Homo sapiens: one gene and its partner. The protein of the gene in region 1 interacts with the protein of each later gene in a pairwise test. Each region holds a gene or a part of one and is shown on either strand. Other genes may lie near its edges. The genes, in order: IQGAP3 and CCDC198.

What was found.
Region 2: the proteins of IQGAP3 (region 1) and CCDC198 interact in a two-hybrid assay, tested with the Homo sapiens proteins (one large-scale study listed by BioGRID).

The regions. Positions count from the first base shown.
Region 1 is NC_000001.11:156,534,566-156,538,065, forward strand, and holds part of IQGAP3 (ras GTPase-activating-like protein IQGAP3), read right to left. Parts: intron 2,757-3,500; coding exon 2,616-2,756; intron 683-2,615; coding exon 598-682; intron 169-597; coding exon 1-168.
Region 2 is NC_000014.9:57,490,820-57,495,356, reverse strand, and holds the start of CCDC198 (factor associated with metabolism and energy), read left to right. Parts: upstream 1-1,499; 5' UTR 1,500-1,641; coding exon 1,642-1,864; intron 1,865-3,317; exon of another isoform or gene 3,318-4,285; coding exon 4,286-4,368; exon of another isoform or gene 4,369-4,373; coding exon of another isoform or gene 4,374-4,415; intron 4,416-4,537. UniProt on the Homo sapiens protein: May be involved in tuning the metabolism, energy expenditure, and excretion processes.

The DNA of each region.
Region 1 (3,500 bases):
GAAGGCCTTGCCAGCCGCAGCGTGCTGTAGGAGCTGAGCCACAGCCCCCAGGGCATGGCGCTGGGGGGCAGCCAGGGCTCCACCAGCTGCCATGGCCACAATGTCGAAGGCGTCAGGAGCCACCACAGCTGGGTTCAGGAAGCGGTAGTACAGGAGGTTCCCGACCACCTGAGGGCAAAGGAGACTCTCCCAGAAGTGTCCAGGGGCCGCCTTGACTGGTGCGGCCCCACATTCTCAGCTTGCTTGGCTGGAAGGGACACCTGGGCCAACCCCCTCACTTCAAAGAAAACAGGCCCAGAGCAGGCAGACAACTTGCTTAAGGCCACACAGCAAACCTGAGCAAGAGCTGGGACTTGAACCCAGATCTCCTGACAAGAAGCCAGTGTTGCCCACTCTGTTCGCTCACACCCCAGCATGAGCCATCTGCCACCTGAAGCCCTGCGGGTGAGCCAGGCTCCATTTATAGGGGGCAGCATATTTCCCTCCTTGGATTTTTATGGCATAGGATTTTTTGTGTTTTTGTCTCAGTCTGGGGATTGCAGGTACCAGCAAAGCAAAGGAGGGATTGGGAGGTGGGGGTGGGGAGACAACACTTGCCTTATAGACCTCGCTGTCTGTGGCGTCAGGGAATTTCTCTGCCAGAGTTGCCTTCAGGACTTTGGCCACATATCGCATCCCATACCTGGGGACAAAGAAACAGGTGCGCGTGGCTGTGCCTCTGCCCATCTCTCTCTGCCAGAGATAAGAGCTTGAGTGCCTGGCTGTCTCTTCTCCCCCAGGCTCAGCCACTCCAGAGTAGAGCTCAAGCACTGTCCCTCCACTAGCCATAGCCAGCTCCCTGCTGCCTTCCTCCAAACGTCTCTGGGCCTTGTCCCTTCCTCCTGCCTTATGTCAGTAGTCAGGACCAGGGCCCTATCATCTACTAAATCTCTCACACAGCCTCCAACCTGGCTCGAGAACCTCTTCTTTGAGACTCTCTGGGTCCCCTGCAGAGCACCCCAGCTCACCATAGCCATCCCCCATCCCCCAGAGGCACCATTAACCTAAAGCTTGGGTATCTGACACTCACAGCCAAAACCCTGTCCTAGGACAGCCTAGGTGGCTCCGAGGTAGTCAACCTTGTCAGCTGTCACAGAGCATCTGTGAGTGGCCTAGTCTGGGCTAGAGGTAGGGCCCCAAGGAGATCAGTGAGCCGGGAGGAGAAGCTCCAGTTTGGACTCCACCACCAACCAGAGATATTATCTTAGACTATTTCCTTCTCCTTTGTAAGTCTGTCCCCTGGTCTAGAAAATGGGAATGATCATTCTTGCCTTCTCTTCTCACAGGGCTTTTTGAGGATCAAGTGAAATTATGTCTGCGAGAGTAACGTATAATGGTAGAGTACTATTCAAATGTGCTAGACTGTATTATCATTATTATTCCTATTATGGATGTGCCACCTACAAATGTAATTAAATTCATTTAAAAGCAATTTCCACTCCTAGGGTACCAGAGACAGAAGTTTACAGCTCATTGTGTACTTTACTTTCTTAAGCCTAGAACAATCTTTTCTTACTCCTAATTGTAAACTCTTAATCCGGTTCTCCAGGTTTGGGGAGCAGGGTTATAAACTCTGTGGGTTCCCCCTTTCAACATCCTCATCTTGCCCTGGGCATTCCAGCCTGGGCAATGGAGTGAGACCCTGTCTTAAAAATAATAATAATAAAAAATAAAGAAAAACAAACAAAAAAAGAATGAAAGCCTGTCATTTTCGACAACATAGATGAACGTAGAGGTTCGTGTTAAGTGACATACATAAGCCAAACACAGAAGGACAAATACTGCATAATCTCACTCATATGTGGAATCTTAAAAAGGTGATTTCACAGGAGTAGAGAGTAGAATGGTGGTTACCGGAGTCTGGGGAGGGTAGGAGAAGGGGAGAGAGGATGGGGAGAGGTTGGTCAATGGGTACAAAGTTACATCCAGGTAGAAAGAATAAGTTCTGGTGCTCTATTGCACAGAAGGTGACTATAGTTGATAATAATGTGTTGTATATCTCAAAATAGCTAGAAGGATTTTGAATGTTCTCACCAAAAAGAAATAAATGTTTGAGGTAATAGATATGCTAATTACCCTGATTTGATCATTCATTGCACAATGTATACACGTATCAAAACATCACACTATACCCTATGAATATGTACAATTATCATGTGTCAAAAATAAATGTAGAAAACCAAACGTATTGACTAAATTTTAAGAAAAGAGAGAACTATAAAGTACTTTATGGGCTTAAAATATTTATTTTTGATATTGGGAACTGAAGAGTCCCATTTTCTCCTCATTTGCTCTTAGCTAATAAAGTGTCCCTGAGATCATTTTAGGGTCCCTCCTCTGGTTCCACTGACATCCTACCAGGCCACACACAGACTTGCACGCCGTCTCTCAGCTCAGCTCTCTAGCAGGAGCTTCGAGCATTCCCCACATCTCTTCAGGAACCCCTCTGAGTACCCCTGGCTCCATCTCCCTCCCTGCCTTCCTCCCTGCAGGACTATCACCCTGCTCTGCTCCCCATGGTGGCCTGGCCCTCTTGAAATCCCATGCGTAGGCTGGGGTGGGGCTGTTGCACATACGGAATTTGGTCCACAGATGAGGTGATGGCTAAAAGGAACTTATCAGTCATGGCGAGGAGGTTGCGTAGGGCGATGTCCAGTCGTCTCTGGACCTCGGGGTGGCTCAAGGCCTGCTCCGGGGTGACATCATATGGGAGATGGCTATGAGCAGAGAGAGACAAGGTGTAAGCAGGAGCCCCCTCCAATGGCCTCCTTCCCCAAGGCCCTATTCCTTAAACGCTTGTCTAACAACAAGATCTCATACAGATGTGCTAAGGACAGCTCAGCATGCTAAAGGAGAAAGGGCCAGAATGAGAGAAAGGACTGGAGAAATGCAGTCGGGAGGTAAAGAAGAGTTGGAGTATCTACAGGGAAGCTGGAAGAATGTAGGAAGGAACAGAGAACGTGGAATCTAGGGACCCTTCTAAGGGGAACAGATGACAAGCAGGCGGCTGCGCTGCAAATAGTCTTTGGGAGTTTGGAATAATGGAGAGGCTGGGCCAGAGCCTTATAGTTCCCTCACCTAAAGCCTCCTGTGCCATCCAGAGCAGCCACCAGGATTGCCTGCTCGCCTCTGTGGCTAGGTTTCCCTAGCACCTAGGGACCTGAGTAATGACCCCAGGCTATAAGGGCAACCTATCTCTCCCACTATCTCATTTGCCTATTCATCTGTAAATAGAAATATTCTTCTATACCCCTATCAATAGGAGTCCATATCCTAACTCCCAGCAAATTTTTTTTTTTTTTTTTGCGGGGGGACAGAGTCTCACTCTGTTGCCTAGAGCTGGAGTGCAGTGGTGCAATCTCGGCTCACCGCAACCTCCCAGGTTCAAGTGATTCTCTTGCCTCAGCCTCCCGAGTAGCTGGGACTGCAGGAGTGCGCCACAACACCCGGCGAATTTTTGT
Region 2 (4,537 bases), on another chromosome or scaffold:
AGCTGAATCCCTCTTACTGGTCCAGATCCATGAAGTCCACAGTTTTCAGTACAATGTCTAGTTCATTTGTTAGTTCGCAATACATTCCCCTGCCCTTAGAAATACTTAAACTGATTGTACTAAAAAATAAATCTTACTAGACCTTACTCAAGTATTATTATCCTTGTAATTAAGCTAGTCTGTTTACCAGAGGCTGTTGTGTTTGCAGATACTGTTAATATATTAGTCTTTACTTATAAACCTCTCTGCTGCAGAGAAAATGATGTGGAAAATGCAAAGAGAGTAAGGAAAAAACTAAATTCAGGCATCTTTTTAGATAAACGTGATTGTCTACCAAGACTTTCCAAACATCACCTTAGTCCCTTAGGAAATGGATTCTGCAAAGATGAAAAATAAATTTTCTTTTAATTTCTTTATGGAGATGTGATGAAAACACAAGTAATCTGTGCTCATGAACAATTAGAGCTTGAAAGTTAGTCCCACTTCTAAGTATAAAGAATAAAATAAAAATCACCCATAATCCCACCATTCAAAAATCACTACTCAATATTTCGGCACATTTCCTTCCAGTCTTTTTTTCTACTTTAAAAATCATAATAGACCAGGCACTGTGGCTCATGCGTGTAATCCCAGCCCTTTGGGAGGCCAAGACAGGTGGATCTCTTGAGGTCAGGAGTTCGAGACCAGCCTGGCCAACATGGTGAAACCCCTTCTGTACTAAAAAATACAAAAATTAGACAGGTGTGGTGGTAGTAGGTGCCTGTAATCCCAGCTACTTGGGTGGCTGACTCAGGAGAATCACTTGAACTGGTGAGGCGGAGGTTGTGGTGAGCCAAGATCGCTGGGCTTGGGTGACTCCAGCTTGGGTGACAGAGTGAGACTCTGTCTCAAAAATAAATAAATTAATTTAATTTAGTTTAAAAACATAGTAAATAGGTTATCTTCAAAAACTCAAGGTTTACTTAGACCATTTATTCAAGAATTTTTTCCCCTTATCCCCAGGAAAAAAATTTCTATTATCCTCCTGTCCTGCAATGTATTCACCCCCTTCAAAGGCAACTCAAGTCATCGACAGAAAAATCAAATGACGCTTTAGCCGCTCCGCTGCTTTCTTTCCTATTTGGGGGATAAATTCTTTAATTAAATTAAAGATTAACAAAGCCTTGGCAATCAGCATGCATCCTCTTAATTGCAAAGATGGCTTAGCTATTCTCAGCAGTTAGTTTTTTTACAAAGGTACTTGCAATGAAAGGGTCAAGTTTAAGACTTCTCTAAACCTCTGCTCTACATCTCTCTCTGTTAATAACCTTCCTGGTGTTCGATATTTGTTTAATGATCAACAGTGGCTTCTATTCCTATCACTGAGTATTTCAGAAAGTAGCATAACCAAGTCAATGTTTAACTGGATTCTTTGGGTCTGAAACGGCAAAGTTGAAGGGAAGTCTCCATGGAAACCAGCCTCCCAGGAAGTGGCCAAAAGGGTTAGTGTGCAGTGAAACAGAGCTAGAAGGATGCCATGAAGGAAATGACTGCTTTGTAAAGCGAGGGTAAACTTCTGAAATGCTTTGATTAAAATAAGCTATATTAAAGACCCCAAAACCACTTCCCTCGCAGCTTTCCTCTGAATGTCTTTCACATGAAATGGGCCTGAGTCACTCTAAGACTCACCTTAGGGTGATCAAAGTAGCACCTTTGCAAAACAAAGAGGTAGAGACTCCCTCGGCTGGCCGTGTGGACTTTGCATTCAATCAGAATTTGGAAGAAAAGACTTCATATTCACTGGCAAGACTGCAGGACCAGAATAAAGCCTTGGAAGGGCAGCTGCCACCTTTACAAGAAAACTGGTATGGAAGATATTCTACAGGTAAACATAAAACCCAGCATGAGATGTGTGTATCTGGACCAAGGAGCATTATTAATAGGTTTATCTGACTGTCTCCATGATCTCAGAAAGTTTCTAAATTCCTGAAATGTAAAGGAATTTAGGCTATCTTTGAAAACTCAAATCTTTCAATGAGGATTGAACATCAGTTGAAAGTATTCTGGGTTCATTAGAATGGGAGTATAAACTGTACAAAGGACTTTTCACTATTCCATATGAGAAGGATAAATCATTTTGTTTCAGCTCAGTTTGTAATGCTTTCAATGTTTATACCTAGTTTTGCCAGACCATTAAAATTATATAGATACTAGTGATAAATGATAGCAATCGCGTTTCAGTTAGATTCTAAATTTAAATCATTCTCTCCAGTATAGTTTAATGCACCAGACTTTGTGGTTTTGAAAGCAACACTTTAAGAGTGAGTTAATTCTAACATGAATTTTGAAACCACCCTAAACAGTATTGATTTATTGCAGTACAGAGGAGTGGATGAGTCACCCTTTTCCCAACCCCACATTCTTCATGGTCATCTGCAGAACTAACAGAATTCTTTCCCATTATGATTGGAAGCTCTGAGCCTGAAGTGGCCATAAATCCTGGGATATTTTATAAGCCATGTAAAATGTTTTATGATGACCACAATGATAATTAAACAGACATTCTCACTTAGAAAAATATATGTTTATTATATACATATATATATGTATATTGTTTTCCCTTTTCTTCACCTTCTGGATCAATAACACAAATAAGTTTCCCTTATTGGATGCCTTGTTCAGAAAGCCTCACATTCTCTTTTGGTACCTAGCAAATCTTGCCTGGAATGATTTTTCATGGCTATTGTCTGCAGAATTGATAACGTTTGGTTGTTTCTATATGGCCTGTTTTTATGTTCTTTATGTTCTTCAAGTTCTTAAGCACATGGATGGGAATTTTCCCCTTAGGAATTTTTTTATGATAGATAGAGGGATAGGTGATAGACATGATTTAAAAAATGGAGCGTGAATGTGTACTAAGAGTATGCAATGCTCCTATTGAGGAATTCCCTTTTTATCCAAACCCCCATTGAGAGTTTTAAGATTTTGGTGACAGAGAGAGACTCTGTCTCAATTAAAAGAAAAAAAAGATTTAGGTAACTGAATAAATGGTGAGCTTATGTCTGAAGTGACAAAATCACATTTAAAAATAAATAACAAGATCATGAGAATCCTCATGATCTCCCATATTCTCACCCCAGCTCCATCAAATACCAAATCGAATGACCTTGGGCAAGTTACTTCATCAATTTTTTTCACTTGTAATCAGGGGTAAAAATAAATGCCTGACACAGCCTATGCCAGTTGAGGAAAATCTAATTAAATAATGGAGTAATGTCACTAAAATAAAAAAAATAAGGATTAGTAAGCCTTCTGAAAAAATAGCTGAAAATACTTACATTGTTAAATCCAGTATGTTTGTTGTTTCCATCCTGCTCAATATGCTGGCATCTTTTCAAAAGAAAATAAGGACATAGTTTCCATCCCACTAAAAGTTAGAGAGAACAAAGTCCTTGAAGTGGTTATTCACATGTCTTAAGGAGAGAGATGCATAATTACCCAGGGATTTTTCCATTTAAAATGCAAAGTGGGACTGTAAAATAGTCTATGAAACAATCTAGAAGTCAGAATGTGTCCAGATTGTTAAAAGGGAAGGACAAGAACTTCATTCATGCAGCGCTGGTCATGGTAGCACTCCCAAGAGCTCAGGATAATCAAGCTGGAAAATAAAATCCATAATGGATCTGTTGAGCCTCTCTGTTTCCTAATAGAGGCTTAACTCTGTATCCCCAGCTTGTTTCATCAGGAAAGAATATTGATATGCTGTATTACAGTGGCAACCTGTGGAAATTTTTTTCACTAAAGGGGCTATTGAATTGTGTTCACACGTACTCCATTTCTTTCTCATCTCTGTATAATCACCTATCTATCTATCATCTATTTCATCTAAGAAGATTGTTTTCATTTTTTAAAGTTATATATTTTTCTGATGTCTTATATTTCAGGGAGGAGATTTTATGGAATTAAAATAAGTCAATAAATTTCTATTTTCCAGGCCAAATTCTGTTTGAAAAATATTTGCAGTCAACATATTGGTAATTTTGTAACTCTCCCCCTAAGTATGAACCTGAGTAGGAAGTTAGGAGAGCAGATATTAAATCCTGGGTCCAGACTAAAATAGTGTCATGTGCACTAATGTAGGTTCCCTGCTTTCTGTGTTTCATCTCCACATTCAACCCACAGGTTAGACATATATAACTGAAAAGGTACAAAATTGTGTTGACAAAGTCTAGTAACTAATGATTGCCTGATTTAATAGTAAATTATATTTAATGTTTTATTCCTGTTTCTTCCCCAATCCTTCAAGCATCCAGAGACATGTATTTTGACATCCCACTGGAACACAGAGAAACAAGTATTATTAAAAGGCATCCACCCCAAAGACTTCAAGTAAGATGAATTTAAAAGGCTTCATAAGGAATTTCTTGGATAAAATGGTAACATCCCTTTTTAAACTATAATCATCAAAGAGGGATATTGATAAGGACCAAGCTATTAATGAGAATGTTCTTAAAGAAAAATGTCATCAATCGCAAATACTCTATTACTTTAAGATTTC